Regions from separate parts of the Homo sapiens genome. Here region 2 is linked to region 1. Evidence: fine-mapped expression QTL. A gene starts in region 1. The other region holds a variant in brackets. All regions are shown on one strand. Distances are from middle to middle. Region 1 holds the start of KLF3-AS1 (KLF3 antisense RNA 1). Region 2 has its middle 24 kb from the start of LINC02278.

Region 1 (8,843 bases):
AACCCTCTTCCAACTCACTCCCAAGAGGAATTCTGACTAGAATATCACATACTAGCAAACTAGATATCAATTGTTTTAAGATTCTAGGGATTTGCTTTTTTAAAAAGCTAGAACCAATGATAAATGATGCACTTCAGAAAGAATCCAAGTTCCAGAATAATGTAATTGTAATTCCTAGTACCTTAAAGAATGAGGTTGTGTGTATTTTATTTTTCTTAAACTCAACTGGGTGTGAAAACAGAGAACAAGAAATGCTGCCTAAGAAATCTGTCGTTTTATAGCAAAAATGTTGATTTGAAAATATTAAGAAGGCAAGTATCTCAAGGGGCGATGGAGACACAATGAAATTAAATTAGGAATCATGATTTATATGGTTAAGAAATTAAAACTCTTGTTCCCATCTTTCTGGTAATCATAGCAACTATAAGATAGGATAATTTTCCCCAACTATTCAGCTTAGCATTTAGAAGCTTGCAGAATTTTTTTCTGATAGAATATATTAGACCCTAATTATCTCTATTAACCACTTCATCTCCCTGCAAAAGAGAGAAGAAAGAATTTGGGGAAAGCCAAATAAAGACTCTGTTTACCAAACCTAGTTAGATTGTTAACAACTTTGGAACCAAAACAAACAAAAAAACCTGCTTCGATTGGAGTTACTTATGAATTTTAAGCTTAAAAGTCTCTTGTCCTACAGGTCAGCTAAGTATTTCCAGCTGCTTTTCCCAAAGGAGAAAGAAGTTATTGGGACTTCTAAAACTCCCAGCTTTTTTCATAGAAGGTTATCAGTAGCCAACTATTTGATACTAATAACTCTCTTAATATCATATTTTATATTTTCCATTTATACATAAAGAATGTGGTGGAATGTGACATTTAAAACGCACCATTATCATCAATTTTGGGGAGAAGAGAGCCTGATTTGCTGCTTCAGCAACTCTTTAAATTAATTCCACAGAGATGCTGTAGATGATTCCTTTTGATTAAAAAAAAAAAATCCCCAAGTAAGTTTACAAAAGCACTTTCCAAAACTTTTCTTTTTCAAGCAAATATTTCCTTAAATCTTAGTTTCTCAAGAACCAACAGAAAACTAATATTAAGGCAGGTCTTAAATAGTTATCCTAGAAATTCATTAACCCACAACTGATAGAATATTTTTAAAAAATGAAAAATATTATTGTAAAACAAAAATGAGAAGAGCATTCTTCTTGTTTTCAAAATAGAAGATTAAAATTTTCCAAACAATCTAGCATTAAATGAATTTGTTAATGCCAGTTCTCCTTTGAGCTTTTTAATTCTTAAAAACGGGTTGGAAATGAGGTGTAGAATATTGCACAGTGAAATCTTTGTCCTTAAAACATTATCCTGATATTTAAATCTTTGTCCTTAAAAAGAAATAATCCCGGGATTTTCTCAATGTCTTAGGCTTTGCTTCAATGATTTTTCTAAAGATTTCTCCTTCCAAACATAAGCAAGACTTAAACTAAAGCCAGGCTGCCAACATTGCTTAAATTCTCCATCCACGGAAGCCACCTGGAGCAGCCTGGGTTAAACGTGAACGAGGGTGGGCCACATCTTTCAGATAATGCTAGGTCTTCTAAACTGTAAGGTGTTAATCCTGATCCAAAATTGACAGCTTCAGGGCAAAATGCCTATCTTAAAACAAACGCCCTAACCACTTCAACACAAGAATTACAAACAAATACAAACAAAACTCCTTTAGGTTTCTTTGCCAGGATGGACCCACGTTTCCCCAAATCACAATCTAGCAATAAAAAATTTAAAAAGGTAAAAGCATTTATTCACCCAGACAAATGCAGTGGAGCAAAGGGTGTACGTAAAAAGGTTAACTGACTTCTCATTATGACATAACACAGGCGTCTTAAGCAATATCAAGTGTGTAGAGACATGATAACTCCATGGGTGGGGATACGGAGTTTAGGGGCAGGGACCTCAGCCTGGTCTGGGCTACTGATCTACCAGAAAACAGCCTGAAACAGGAAAGAGCACACATATGCCACTTGGAATGTATGACGCAAACCCCAGCCTTGAAACAAAGAACAGGAAACAGCTCTGCTGGCTGTGCTGGAGAGAAAGCACAGAGAAACATTTAGCCGGCCCTCCCTGACCCTATATTCATGAGCAGCTGGAGTTTTTTAAGACAACAACAGGGGGGTGGAGGTGTTTGTTCTACGGGTGTGAATAATAACACCAGCTTTATACAGGGGACCTGCCCTATTTACAAATAAGAGCTGCCACATACAGTAAACATCATAAGTGAAATGTGATTTTATCATATTCAAGCAGCAGAGACCTTCCTAATGAACACTAGCCTCCCTCCTGATTTCTTTTGTCCCTTTCTGCCCCATTCCAATGGCTAGTCCCTAGCTCAGATCAAATTCCGAGTTAGGGTAATGATTATGGTTCAGCCTCAGTGCATCAAGAGGAAAAAAGATAGAGCACTGCTGTTAGGAATTCAGATTACAATTGGGGTACCCCACAGAACCAAAATTGGAGCAACTGTAAGCCTCCTTTAGTCACAGAACTAAATTCCAAGACAGACTGTGGGACATCTACAGTAACCCAAAATTTTCACTGTCTTTTTCAAATGCAGTTATACACATCTTTGCAGAGCTGCTCATCTGTTCAACATATACACACGTTTATAGAAATTCGCCTTTTAAGAATGTGATTCTGTTCCTGACATTTATCTAAAAATTATTATGCAATCTGTACACCAGAGTACTAATTTCTAGAAGTCATTCTAAAATGTCTATTTTCCCTTTGGGTTATTTTTAAGATAGTAAAATCCATTCACAGTTCCTTTCCCATTATTTCTCTTTACTTTGTTAGCCAGGACTGTTTAACTCAAGCTTACGTTATCAGAGATTTAAGAATGTGGTGTGTGCAGACTAAGTACAGGTAAGGAAAAAAAAAAAGAAAAAAAAAGGAAAAAAAGAGCATCACTGTGCCCATAGCAACAAGAAGATTGGGTTTTAATTTAGAAACTTTGCAGTGAATAAAACAATAGCTTTCTGCAAAACTCTGTTGTCGTTTTGTACCTGACAAGGTTTTGTGGTCTAAGCAGTTACTTTTCTTTGTTATTCCCATGTTGAGATTTTTGTACTTGCATTCCCTTTCATGCAAGCTAAATGTTCTTTACAATGTATCATCATTGAACTTACCGATAGTACATTAGGTTTTTTTCTTCTAATAAATAGTTCTGCAGCAAAGCCCACTGACTGCAGAAATGAAGATACCAGTTTCTCTAGGGAGTTTAATTTAATCGAACATCTAATTTCAGGTTTCTATTAACAGCCTAAGGTCAACTAACATACCTCTTTTCAAACCAGAAGAAATCACTCGTGGACACTTTCCTTAAACACTATTACTAACTCCAAAAAATTTGTAGATATTAATGCTAGCAGATTGTTTTTTCCCCTAAAAGCAAGTCTTCTTCCCTAGGGTGAGGCAGATCATCCAGATGAATTTCTCTTATAAAAATGCTCCTCAAATTCGTACAGAAAAGGATAGCACAAAACTGCTGTGTGGAAAAACCTATAATGAACAACTGGCCTATTCCCCACTTGATTTTGCTGGCACATTTCAGGTACTTGTCAGAATACCACTTCATACTTTTTCCCATATACCAGACTCTTGTGAGAATATAATCAATATATTTAAAATGTCTTGGGTGATATTAATGGAAACATAAATTCTGAGTAAGAAATTCAGTGGTTAAGTGTAAAATGTTTATTTTAGTGAAATACAAGAAGGTGAGCAATTTCCAATTTCCGTTTAACTTGACTTATTAAAAATAAGTCTCATTCACATTCTTCTAGTATTATTGTATACTGCTATAAAATTTAAACCAGAAAAGTGCTTCTCCTTGTCAGTAGCTATCTGCCCAAAAAAATGAATATGACAATTCCAGATCTCATCTGCCATCTCTAAGAAAGCCACTTGGAAATGTTAGGTAGGTCCCATGGGTCCTGATCCAGGGATCTGTCCCTGGGTCCCCATCAGGCTCGGCTGCAGGCAGTTGCCTAAGGCGTCTTCCGCCTTCAGCCACGCTGCAATCCTTGCTCCAGGCACTGCGGCAGGTTCTCTCCATGCCCCCAGGAAGACTCTCCAAACCCGACCAGCTCATTTCTCCTGCCCCGGAGGATCCAGACGCCCTGGCAGCTCCTGGGCTCCAGAACCGAGAATGGGATGCTGCCTCCAATCCCAATTGCCCTAAGTTTCTTTCCAGAGGGCCGGGAGACTGCTCCAAGTTTGCTGTGGCGGGCGAGCGGCCGCGCGCCGTGTCCTGGGAGGGGGGCGGCGGGGGGCGCGGGCGGAGGGAGGGGAGGGGAAGGACGCGGGAGCCTGGGTTGTGGTGGTGGTGGGGGGGCACCGGGAGGGGGAGGAGCAGGAGCGCGCGGCCGCGGCGCTACCTTTCTCCAAACAACGTTGCCACACGCGGAGAGCACGGAGATTTCTGGGGCTTTGGAGGGAATCGTGAGCGGGCGGGAGGAGGCCGGGGACCACACAGGTGAGCCCCCGCCCGCGCCCTGCCCGGGACGGCGGCGGGCGCTGCCAGCCCCGCTCCCCCGCACCCGGGGTCCGCACGGTGCCTCGCCTCAACCCCTCACTTTTCACCGCGAACCCGTGACCCCCTCCTCCTTGCTTGCTCTCCGCCCCCACCCCGGCTAAGTGTAGCCGCCACACTTTCCCAAGCCCGCAGGCGCCCCCCCCAACACCAGCGCTGCACCCCCGACCCATTCCCCGCGGCCCCCTCCAGGAGAAAAAATGAAACCAGACTGGCCGAGGAGGGGGGCGGCAGGGACCAGGGTGCGGAGCAGAGGTGAGGGAGACGGGACTTACTTTGCGAGGCGCGGTGCAGGGCGCCGCCGACGAGAAATAAAGGCCCCGATACGGGCTGCCTGGAGCCCCCCGAGCGCAGCAATGTCAGGGCTCCAGTCCGGGCGGCGTTGGCGGCCGCAGGGGACGGGGACGGGCGCGCGTGCGGCGGGCGCTCTCGCTGCGCTCCGGCTCGGGCCCCGGCTCCGCGCGGCTCCGCTCCTGGCTCCCCTCTGGCTCCTGGCACCAACTCCGGGCAGTCACATGACGCCGGCGCCGCTCGCTCTGCGAGCCTCCCGGGGCTGGCGGGGTAAGTAGAGGCTGGGACCCGGGGTGGGAGGGTCAGGGAGGGGAGAGGGAGCCGCCGCGGCCGCCCGGGCTGGGCGGGTCCCCACCCACTTGGGTGGAGGCAGCCGCCGGAGGGGTCGGCCGAGTCACTCGCGCAAACACGCACCCCGCCCTGCGCCCTTCCCCCGCCACCCCCGCCTCCCGCGCCGCCTCCGCCCCGCCCCGCCCAGTCACCCGGGGACGGCCTGACAGACACTCATTATTCCCCGGAGCCGGGCGCCGCCCCGCCGGCCCAACCTGTCCCACGAGGCGCGGCGCGGCCGTGGGGCTGGGCGTGCGCGGCGCGGCCTCCGCCCCCCGCCCGCGTCCCCGCCCGCGTCCCCTCCCCGCGCCCTCCTCCCCGGAGTCCGCGCCCCGCCAGCCCTCCCGCCCGGCCCAGCCGCCGCGCCGCCGCCCGAGCCCGGGGGGAAGGAAGGGCGGCGCTGCCCGCTCCGGGCGTCACACGGCTGCGGCCCGCTGCGCTGCTTCCAAAACACACAGCCGGGCTCGCGGGCGAGCCGAGGCGGGGGGCGCGGGCTGCCAGGGCCATCGATCAGCCGGCTCCAGCGGGAAGGGCGGCCCCGGGCGCGGCGGGAAGGGCTGGGCCCCGCGGCCGGCGCGGCGCGGCGCGGCCCCTCCTCGGCTGAGCGCACTCAGCTCACTGCAAGAGAAAAGCCGAGCCGAGGCGGCCGCGGTGCAGGAGCGAGTGGGCCGGGCGGGTTCGGGAGGGGAAGAGCGGCCGCTGGGGCGCGCCGAGCCTCCCTGGCCCCGAGTCGCCGGGGTCAGGGGACACCCTGTAGGCGCGCTCTTTCTTTGTGCCCTGGGGCGACGGGTCCCCCTGGCCGGCGGCCCAGGCGGCGCCCCCCACCTCGTGGGACTTTTCTTTGAAGGCCCGGAGACCCCTGGGGCAAAACTCCCACGGGCCAGGCCTGCCGCTGGAGCTAAAAAGCGGCATTTGCGCAGTTGGGCTTGCCTGGAAACTTGGCAAACTTTGGTCGGATCCTCCCCTGCAGAGCGAGGGCCTGGCCTGGCGACCCCCTCATTTCAAGTCGCTTCTAGGGACCTAGCGCCCTAAGCTCAGTGGCCTTCAGGGTGCTGCGAGCGAGCGGGGCGGCACAAAAGCGCGTTCGGTCCAAGCCAGGCCCCTTCGAGGACTTTGTGTAGATTGGTACCTAAGTTTAATGCCTTTTGAGTTTCTTTTTAAACAGTATTAATGTAATAATTAATGTAATAAAAAGAACAAAGGACGAATTCGTTCGATTGTTTTAAGTTCTGTGTAATGTTTAAAACCGCCCCTGCTTCAGTGTATGGCTTATTATTGCTTCAAGATGTTTTAAAGGCCCTTTAAGTTGACCCATCTCGCTTTGATGCTTCATCCAGACATCGTGCTGCTTAAAACGGAGTGATAATAGTATATTTCGAGCCGCTTCATGTAGCTACACAGTATTGTAAAATTAGTACTCGGTAACCTCAAGTAGTGAAATCGCATATTTTAAATAACGCAAGTCCAGGAAAGGCCACGTGGAGGATACCCAGAACCGACGCCGGCTCATGGGACGTCGTGCTGTCCCATAAGCTTCATCTTTAAAATGTAAAGGGTGTGAGTTTTTTTTTTCTTCATAATGAATAAAAGACATTCCAGAAAAAAAAAGAGTTGGATTCGTGTCAATTACTAATTGCCATTTATTGATCACTGACATCATTAAATGGCTGATTGGCTGCCTTAAGGTTTGCATTAGCGGAACACCGTGCTAGGAATGGCTGGTGAAACTGGCTCATAGTAGGTGCTCAAAAAAGTACGTTTTTTTCTCCAGGGACACAGTGACGAGAACTTGAAGCACATAAACCATGTTTTTTACCTTGTTCATGTGGGTGTGGACGCAAAGGGGAAGAGCGAAATAGGCCTGTCGGAGAAAAGTGTGACCCAAGATAAGAAGGGAGTGGTTTTGATATGGAAGGGGCAGGCGGCAAAGGAGAAGAAAAGCCATTTTAAACAGTTAATTAGTGAACACTGTGTTCGGTGCCCTGTGGGAAGCTGCTCAAATGCAACTTGTCGGAAATGAATCTATCTAGTGCTGGGTAGCTCAGTGAAGGACACCATCATTCTTCAAAGTGCCCAACAGGGTGGGGCGCGGTCGCTCACGCCTGTAATCCCAGCACTTTGGGAGGCCGAGTTGGGTGGATCACTTGAGGCCAGGAGTTCGAGACCAGTCTGGCCAAGTTGGCGAAACATCGTCTCTACGGAAATTACAAAAATTAGGCATGGCGGCGCACGCCTGTAATCCTAGCTATGTAGGGAGGCTGAGACAGGGTGATTGCTTGAATTCAAGAGGTGGAGGTTGTAGTGAGCTGAGATCATGTCACCACTGAACAGAGTGAGACTCTGTCAAAAAAAAAAAAAAAACCAAAACAAAACAAAAAAAAAACAAAACCCCAACAGAAGCACCTAAGCCTTTCTTCTCGCTAGCAGGGCATAGCCCATGTTTCACTGAGTCCTGGACCTCCTTGGTCACTACCCACTCTCTGGCCACTATGCTGGCCCAGCCTGTTGCCACCATGTCTTGTTGGTCATCCTGTCATCCTGTTTGTAGTATGGGCTGAAGCATGAAAAAGGCATTGGAGCACGGGAGTAAGAGTGCCCTTTCCAAAATGCAAGCCTGATCGTGTCAGTCCCTTCAATGGCTTCCCATAGGATGAAGTCCTAAGCTTTCCACCCCTGCTGGCCTGGCCTCTGCCTGTCATTACAGACACTTCTTCCTCTTCTCTCTTCCTACTCTTTTCCAGCAACGCTGAACTTCTTTCCGTTCCTTTCTTCCAACTCTCTCTTCCCACCTCTGGCCCTTTGCACATGCTCATTTTTCTAGGTAGAAAAGCCTTGTCTTCTCAACCTGACCTCTACTCCCATTTCCCTAAATTCTATACATCGTTTCAGTCTTGACTTAAATGACATTTTCTCCAAATATGTATTCTCTCACTGCACCTTTGGACAAGTTGAGGTGCTCTGGTAACATCTAGTGGGGCGTGATGGGAGATGTTTGGGTCATGGGAGTGGATCCTCCTATTTCCCCTCTTGTAACACTTTCCGTTCTTGTAGTTGGCTATTTAATGATCTCTCTGTGGCACTAGACTGGAAACTCTATGAGGGCAGGGACCTTGTCTTTTCAGCAAAAATGTATTCCCAGGGCCCAGATGTTCAATGAATATTTGTCAAAGGAATAAATGTGGTTTATGAGTTGCGAGGAGGGAGGAGTCATTCTGAGCTGAAGAGGTGAGTGGGGGCTATAGGGAGGCAAGTGGCAGTGAACTATACCTCCATCAGTCCAGGGGCTTTGAAATGGTGAAGAGGAGGGAAGAGGGAGTTACCCCCCCTGAGTGCTTTTAAGCAACAGAGTGAGATAGTAAAAGCGATGCCTGGGTCTTTTTAAAATTCCTAACACTAGCACAGTGCCTGGAACATGGTCAGGTGTTCAGTAAATCCTACATGACAATCTCAAGTGTGATCTTTGTGGTAGCTGCTTTGCGCTTTTTCCTTGCTGACAGCAGGCCAGTCTGGTTTAGGTGTGGGAAGCCTATCCTCAGTGGAGGATACCCATGCCTGGTCCCAGCAGAGGAACCCTGGTTACTCCCAGCCAATCCCAGTGTCTTTTGCCAGTGACTGGTTGGAGGGTAGGTAT
Region 2 (8,843 bases), 77 kb after region 1:
CCGCTGCCAGGATTCTGCCAGCTTGCAGTGTGAAGGAAAGGGGTTTGCACTTTTCCTCTCCCTGCAGAATCTTCTACGCCCTTGGTTGCCCCATAAGAAGACAACATGGGGACTTGGGCAATACATTTCACTCTCAGGATTCCAGAAAGTTGCTAAATGGGTTACTTTTTCATCCATCTGGAACACTTCTAACTTGTGTAAGTGATTCTCTTCAGTCTGGCTTGACTCTGTCAAGTTGTCCCCAGTGACAGCAAGGGAAGGACAGCTGCTTCCCCGTGCCTGTTGGTGTCAGGTGGGCTCTGTCTGCAGTTGTTTGCCCCTGGTGCTTCTAGCTGTTTGAGATCCTAGGTTAGGAATGAACCCAATCCATCTTATTGCCAAGGACATGTGGACACTAAGATGAACAAAGAAGCAAACCTGCATACTCAGTTTAAAGTTGTATTTGTTTTTCTCCCAATGGTTTGCTCATTAAAAATTAAGTGCCTATGCCAATGCTGGCTTAGGCAAGGCCTGGACATTCTCTCTGCAGACACTTGCTGGTGGTCTGAGCTGACTCACCCTCACGCCCTCACCTCACATGGCTCTGCCCTTGGCGCCTGGTCTTGGGAGGTTTGCATTCTTGCAGCAATCTCGGGCTGCTACCATGCCATAGGCAAAAACAACAGGACTGTCTTTAGGGAATTCAGGAGTGAGTCTCACGGTCTAGCCACTGGCTTTTACTGCATGAGGCTGGGGGAGGGTTTTCCCAAATAAGGAGACCTGAAAGTCCTCTTCGTTGGGGATGCTCTTGACCTGCACAGTGCTAGAGTTGGAAATGTTTATACAAATGCACTTCACATTTTATCTGTTCTTTGGATAGGCCTGTAGAACATTCCAACTACACTCATTTCTTTCGCTTCTGTCCTTTATCCATGTTAAAGCCAGTTAGAGACACCGGTACTTAATTAGTGACTTTGGCATTGCTCACACACCTTGTGCCAGGAATGAACTGAAGATGAATTTGACAAGAAGCAGAGGTTGTGGGCGGGGAGGCTTTGGCAGCTCCCAGAGGAGCTTCCTCGGGCGTTTTGTTAGAATGTCTCATCCTCCTCTAGAGCTTTCCTGTGTTTGTGTGGGAGTTCAGTTCAACAACTTGTTAAGCACCTACTCCATACCAGGCACTAGTCCAAGTTAGGTGCTGGGGATACCAAGACTAATAAATTCTGTCCTTGCCTTCAAGGAGCTCAGAATCTTAACAAGAGATGAACCTGTGGTGGTGGCTTCAAGATGGCCACACATTCTCTCTACTCCTTCCCTCGAATTTGGACTGACCCTCTCTCTCACTAGCTTTGACCAATAGAATGTGGTGGAAGAAAAGTGCAACTTCTGAGGTTGGGACTTAAGAGATCTACGGCTTCTGCTTCTGTCACTCCTAAAATGCTACTTGTAAGGAGCATTTGTCACCCTGTAAGGAGCCTGACTTGTAAGGAGGCCACCATGCTGTGAGGAAGCCCAAGCTAGCCACATGGAGTGAGAGTGTGAGAAGAACCTGAGGCACTGGGCATGTGAGTGAACACTTCATGGACCTAGACTCTAGCTGAATGCAGCTGAGTGAATGAACCTAAGCCAATGCCTTGTGGGGCAGAAGAACTGACCAGCCAAGCCTTGCCTAAATTCTTGATCCATAGAATTGTGAACAAATAAAATGGTTGTCATCTGAACCCAGTAGGTATTGGGGTAGGTTGTGACACAGCTAATAGATCATTCAAACACACACACATATTCTTAGATAATGATAGAGATACACATAGGATGCTACAGGAGCACAGACGAGGGGTCCCAGAGACAGCCTGTGGTGATGATGGGATGGGCATTGAATGCTTTCCAAAGAAGGCTGGCTTGAGTAGCAAACTTCACATCTCTATAGACCTGGATGTGAACCAGGCTTGAGGGAAAGTGAAGGCTGTCTGGGTACAGGAAAACAGAACAAGAAAACATGGAGGTGATGAATAGCATGATACATATGTGAGGGCTTTTCAAGCAGGAAGTAATGGGTAAGTTTGCAGGGGTGTCATCATCATCATCATCATTGGGATAGATGCCATTTATTGAACACTTGATATATGCCAGATGTGGATCTAAGGTTTTCTATATGTTAACTCATTTAAATAATTCTAACAGCAAACCTATATTATCATTACCTTTTTACATTAGAAGCAAATGAGGCACAAAGAGATTAAATAACTTGCTCATGGGCACACAGCTGTCAAGCACAGAGTAAGGATTTGAACTCAGGCAAGATCTCAAAGAACTTTCTGTGCCTCTTTGAAGATCTCTGTATTTGCTCTGTAGGGATACAGAGTAACCCAGAGGTTTTAAGTAAGGGAGTGGCATGGTCACATCAAAAGATTCTACTGTTTTGCAATTTTTCCCACTTCAGTTATTTTCATTGTCTGTTGTCTGTTTCTCTATAGTGACTAGCAATGAATCTCTTATAACAAGCAGAGCCTGTGAGCTCATCTTTGAGAGGATGTAAGGAAGGAGGGAGGGGCATGGGTCACGTACAACTCCACAGCTGGTCGTAGGGGTGGAGGGAAGGACAGAACGCCCAGGGAGAAAATGGGTGTGGTGGCCACCAAGAGAAGAAAGCTGGCTGCATCCTTGACCCCAGGGAAGAATGAGGACAGCAGCACATGGGAACCAGCCTGTGCTAAACTCTTTGGAGCTGAGGTACCGATGGGATCCTAGGCTTTGCAGACAATCTGCCTTTCTCTCTTTCCTTCTCTCCATGGCCCTTCAGGAGATTAGCATCAAAATATTAAAAACAGCTGTTGAGCTCCTAACAGCAATTAGCAAGGAAGAGAGCATTCCATGGAAATCCAGAAATGTTCTCCTGGCCATGGCTATTGGCTTCTGAAGAAGTCCTTGAGGGCAACTGTGGAGTCGCGGGACCCACATATACCACATCCATCTTCTCTCTGTCCCTTGCTCTGTCTCCATGTCTACGGGCATGGAGCAGACTCAGCGGAGTCTGAATCTCTGTGCAGATTTGTCAGATTCTTGTTCCAGCAGCTTTTCATGCAAGGAGGGAAGCAACAGAGTGTAGAATAAGAAAGAAGTGTGGCTTAGGGCCTAGGAGAACCTAGAAGACCTAGCCTCCAGCTTAGCTTGGCCAATACTTGCTTTGTAGGATATGGGCAAATGTCTGAAGTTCCTAGGTCCCAAGGTCCTCATCTGCAATATGAGGGTGTTGGATGAAGATTAATCTTACCACAAAGCATAAAAATTACAATAGCTGAGGTTTACTACACATGGACTAAAAACCTGACCCTTTGCTAAGGACTTTTTTTACTTTTTTAGTTAATCCTCACAATAACCCAAGTTTAATGAAGCTTACTGAAGCCTTCCCTCATCCAATCCAAAGCTCCCTGTATACATTATCTATTGCTGTGTAACAAATTACTTCAACTCTTCATGGCTTAAAACAATAATAAAATGTATCATCTCATAGTTTCTATGGGCCAGGGATTGTGAAGCAACTTGGCTGGGTGGTTCTGGCTTGACGTCTCTTATGAATCTGCAGGCTACAGTCTTCGGAAGCCTTGACCAGGGTTGGACGATCACTTTCAACATGATAGGTTGGCTCTGGCCATTGGCAAGCTTGGTGCTGGCTATGGGCAAGAGGCTTCATTCATCACCACCTCACCCTAGGACTGTCTGTTAAATTACTTGAGTGTTCTCTCAACGTGGCTGTTCGTTTCCCAAGAATGAGTGACCCAAGAGAGTGATTTGGTAGCTGCAATGTCTTTCATGACCTGTCCTTGGACATAACACCCTCCCATTGCCTTATTCTGCTGCTTCTAGTTTTAAATTTTAACCATGTTTCTGATGACAAGGAATGCTGCAAAAATACTCTAGTTCAACAAAGAGTTATGATCACAAAATAATTTTTATCCATTCTACAGTGTTTCAGAATTACCAGTTGATTTTTAAACACAAAGTAGATATAGATGCCAATGGTGGCTACATCTTATTGGTTACCTGGGTTAGCCCACTCAACATGAAGAGGAACACACAAGGGGATGAATATCAGGAGGCGAGGATCATTAGTGGCCATCTTTGAAGCTGCCTACCACATCTTCCCCTTAAATTTCTATCATATTATTGTGTTCTATTTTTAATAGTTTTTATCTGAAATCATCTTTTTTTGGTAGAGACCCATTTCCTCCCCATTAGAAGATAAGCTTCCCAAGAGCAGGAATTTCATCCTTTTTATTGCTGTACCCCCAGCACC[A/T]GAACAATGCTGGTTGCATAGTTGTTGCTCAATATTTAGCATGAGATAGGTATTACTTTGCCAATTTCAGACACAGAAACAGAGGCTCAGAGAAGTTAATTTGCCTGAAGTCACATAGATATTAAGTGGTGGAGCTGAGAAACCAACTTATGCATAGGGACTGATACCCACAGTCTACTTGGTTGGCCCTCAGCAACTCCATTGCTGCCATTATGCAAGTGTCTGCACATGAAGAGCAGGACAACATCCAGGAGAAGGGCCAGGAGAATTCCTGGGTAACTGGGAGATACCAGGAGGAAGTGCATGAGTGTCTATATGAATGGATGCATGTGTATGGTTGAGATGGTTGAGTGTGTATATTTGTGTGTATAGCAGACAGAGAGAAAGAGAGGGGGGACAGAGAAAGAGAGAGAGAGAGAGAGAGAGAGAATGTGTGGATGTGTGGGTAAGGTAGCTGGATCAAAGGGGAGATAATGTACTCTGGACAGCTTATATGACACAGACCTGGAGATAATATTTTGACCTTAGCCTTATTGGTTTTCTTTGAAAAATTTTTCTCCAAGGAATATTCTTATTAAAATGACTAAGTAAATTTTCCTTTAAAAATCCCACATGCAATTTAAGTCATTGGTTGACTAGCAAGTCTACTGCCAAATTACACATGGAATACTAACTTGATTATGTTTGCGGGAATTATCCATTTTCTGGATTATTGGCCAGAAAAAGAGAAATACTGTCTGTTGGCCACCCACTCTCCATTCTCCTTTCCACCCTCCTGAGGGAGGGGCCCTGATATTCATCAAATACTCAATGGGGTTCTTTTAGAACAAAGCCTTATCCACCCCCTCTCCTTGCCTGGGAGCTAGAAATTTGGGGGAGGAATGAAGGGAAATGGTTATGAAAGTCCCTCACTTACTCTCCCTCCTCTGAGGCATTCTGGGTGCTGAGTTTTGGAGCAAGGGGTATTGTGTGTAGAGTAGAGGTTTTTGGTCTTTGAGTGAAAGCAGAGTGGAATCCAGGAGAAAGCCCACATAAGTTGATTGCTGAGGCTGGCTCTGATCTAGTATGGAAGTGAAGGTGGTGGTGGGGTCCCACAGTTACTTCAAGGCCCAGCCCAGTTTACCAGGGTAGGAAAGCAGAGAAAGATTTTGTGTAGAAGGCCTGCTCAGGAAAAATGAGTTTGCATTTAGCTTGAAAGTATCCTCAGGAATCTGTGGGTGGCTGTGGTTAGCTGGACCAAAAGCAGACCTGGCTGAAAGATTGAAGTAAGCTTCCTCCTCAAATAGTGAGTTGGTCTCCATCAACAGTATCTAGACACAGACTGAATAGGCATGTGTGAGAGAGAATGGCATTCTCCCAGCTGGTGCTTACCATTTAGACCAAAGTTCATTCAAGGAAGGTTCTACTGGGGCCCTACCTTATCTTTTCCATGACTCCCTGATGAAGAGGATGTAGCACAGTGGTCAAGAGCACAGGCCTTAGAGTTTGTGTGCTTCTGTTTGTGCCCTGGCTCTGGCACTTGCTAATTATGTGACCTTAGACAAGTTACTTAATTTCTCTGTGCTTCTATTTCCTCAAATGTAAATGAGGATACAAATTGTTCTTACTTCTTAGAGTAGTTGTGATGATGGAATTGGGATAATACATGTAAAGCTCTTGGAACAGTAGGTTGCATTCAAGAATTTAGTTAACTAACGTATATGGAGTAATATACATTGCTATGTGCCAGGCATCGGAGAATGATGAAGGAGGCCCAGTTCTGCCCCTCATGAAACTTACCTTCTAGTGTTTGTGGGGTGGGAGGTAGAATAATGCCACCCCAAAAAGATGTCCATGTTCTAGCCTCCAAAACCTATGAACATGGTAGGTTACATGGCAAAGGGGAGTTAAGGTTGCAGATGGAATTAAGGTTGCTCATCAGCTGATTTTGCAATAGAGACAGCAGCCTGGATTATCCAGGTGGGCCCAGTGGAATCACAAGGGTCCTTAAAAGAAGGAAGAGGGAGGCAGGAGAGTGTCAGAGTGATGCCATGTGAGGAGGACTCAACCGGCTGCTGCTGACTTTGAGGATGGAAGGGGGACCCAAGCCAAGGAATGCAGAATCTTTTCCTATGAGATTGGAAAAGAGGCTGCACGTGGTGGCTCGTGCCTGTAATCCCAGTACTTCGGGAGGCTGAGGTCGGTGGATCACCTGAGGTCAGGAGTTCGAGACCAGCCTGACTAATATGGTGAAAACCTGTGTCTACCAAAAACACAAAAAAACTAGCTGGATGTGGTGGCATGCACCTGTAGTCCCAGCTACTCAGGAGGCTGAAACAGAAGAATTACTTGAACCTGGGAGGTGGAGGTTGCAGTCAGCTGAGATCATGCCACTGCACTCCAGTCTGGCTGACAGAGCAAGACTCCATTTCAAAAAAAAAAAAAAAAAAAAAAGCTGAAAAGGGAAGGAAATGAATTTTCCCCTAAAGCCCCAAGAAGGAACATAGTCCTACTGAAATCTTAGCTTTAGTGAGACCCATTAAGACCCATTTCAGACTTCTGATCTCCAGAAGTGTTAAGACAATACATTTGTGTTGTTTAAGCCACTATGTTTGTGATAATTTTTTGCAGCCGCAACAGGAAACTAATACTAATGCAGATAAGAAGTAAGTGAACAAACAAATATAAAGTATGATTTCAGGTAATGAAAAGCGCTATGAAGAAGATGAAGCAGGATATGGATGACCGAGCCTTGGGAGATTAGAAAAATAAAAGATGAAGCAGGATACAGGGAACGATGGAGACGGCGGATCTCTTAGATGGTCAGGGAAGGCATCTCTGGGAAGATGACATTTGAGAAGATGTCTGAATGAAGTGAGAGGACAAGCCATGGGTCTGCGTTCCAGACGGGGGGATGGAGGCTACGAAGTCCTTAAAGAGGGGAAGAGCTCGGAGAATTAAAGTAGAATTAAAGGTCAGTGTGACCAAGGCACAGTGGGCAAGTGAGAAAGTCATAATGAGTGAGACCAGACGATGCAGAAGTTAGATACTACAAGCCCTTGGAGTTTGGATTTTACTCCCAGTGTGACAGGAAACCATTAGAGGCTCCCCTCCAATGGAGGGGTGACAGGACCTGATTTACATTTTATGAAGCTCACTTAGGCTGCTGTGTGAAGACTACACTGGAAGAGGTTAAGAGTGGAGGAAGAAAGCGAAGTCAGGAAGATACTATGGAAGAAGATGGATTACACTCAGCTGGTGGGGATAGAGTTGGTGAGCCATATCTTGGTGGTTAGAGCTGACTGGGCTTTATAATGGTTTGGATATGGGGTTTGAGGGAAGGGAGGAAATCAAGGATGCCTCCTAGGTTTGGGCTGGAGCAGCTAGGTGAAGGACAGGCTTTTTTTTGTGTGTGTGTGATGGAGTCTCTCTCTGTCGACAGGTTGGAGTGCAGCGGCGCCATCTCAGCTCACTGCAACTTCTGCCTCCCAGATTCAAGCGATTCTCCTGCCTCAGCCTCCTGAGTAGCTGGGACTACAGGTATGCACTACCACATCCAGCTAATTTTTGTATTTTTAGTAGAGATGGGGTTTTACCATGTTGGCCAGGATGGTCTTGATCTCTTGACCTCATGATCCACCTGCTTCGGCCTCCCAAAGTACTGGGATTACAGGTGTGAGCCACTTCACCCAGCCAGGGACAGGCTTTTTACTTACATGAAGAAGACAGGAGAGGAAAAGTGTGAAGGTTAAAATTCAGAATGCTTATATAATAAATGATGAACGTTATTATCAGCATTTGATACTCCTGACACACTGGTTTATTGTTTTCTATCTCCATACTATGCTCATAATTCCTCAATCTGGAACTTTCTGCTCCCTCTTCACTATCATGTGATAAATGCATATCTATCCCATCTCAACTCATTGCAACCTCTGCCTCCTGGATCTAAGCGATTCTCCCACCTCAGCCTCTCAAGTAGCTGGGGCCACAGACGTGTGCCCCCATGGGCAGCTAATTTTTGTATTTTTATAGAGATGGGGTTTCACCATCTTGGTCAGACTGGTCTTGAACTCCTGACCTCAGGTGAAGCACCTGCCCTGGACACCCAAAGTGCTAGGATTACAGGAGTGAGCCACCATGCCCAGCCCATATCCATCTTTATGGATGCCTCTTTTCCCATTCTACCTCTTTCCTATGTACACTAGGAGAGATCTCTTTTCCCTTGAAATCCTAGTATTTAGGTCTAATATTTAGGTCTCCTTAACAGTTTGCACTGGGATCTTATTTATGTAAGTCTTTTACCTTCACTATCAAATGGTAATCTCCTTGAAGGCAGGGATGTTCATTACTCTTCCTGAATTCCCTGCTGCATAGTCACTTGCACATAAGAGATACCCCATAAATGATTGCTGAATGGAATCAATGTTACAAAGAAGATGACTGCATTGAACTAGGGAGTGGGGAAGTTGAACTAGGCATTTTCTAAGGCTTTCTGCTCTAAAATTTTATAATTCATTTGATTGCAGGTTGCATGTCCCTACCTGTGAGACAATTTCTAAGCTGCGTATTCCTTACTTGATTACTGAGT

The links. PIP is the estimated chance that this variant, and not a neighbour inherited with it, causes the effect.
Region 2: its variant is fine-mapped to the expression of KLF3-AS1 in tibial artery (GTEx, PIP 0.96).

The regions. Positions count from the first base shown.
Region 1 is chr4:38,660,485-38,669,327 of GRCh38, reverse strand. It overlaps KLF3-AS1 (KLF3 antisense RNA 1), which reads left to right and starts at 4,435. Exons shown (of 16, transcript NR_171644.1): 1 at 4,435-4,534. It overlaps KLF3 (KLF transcription factor 3), which reads right to left and starts at 5,129. Exons shown (of 6, transcript NM_016531.6): 1 at 4,867-5,129. RefSeq lists enhancers at 1,966-2,015, 1,205-2,054, 2,055-2,905, 6,940-7,261, silencers at 4,389-4,738, 4,799-5,398, 5,409-5,678, 5,709-6,228 and a promoter at 4,867-5,669.
Region 2 is chr4:38,583,958-38,592,800 of GRCh38, reverse strand. No RefSeq gene overlaps it. Among named protein-coding and RNA genes, the nearest start is that of LINC02278, 24 kb to the right of the region's middle. The variant A/T (reference allele first, on the strand shown) is at 4,274.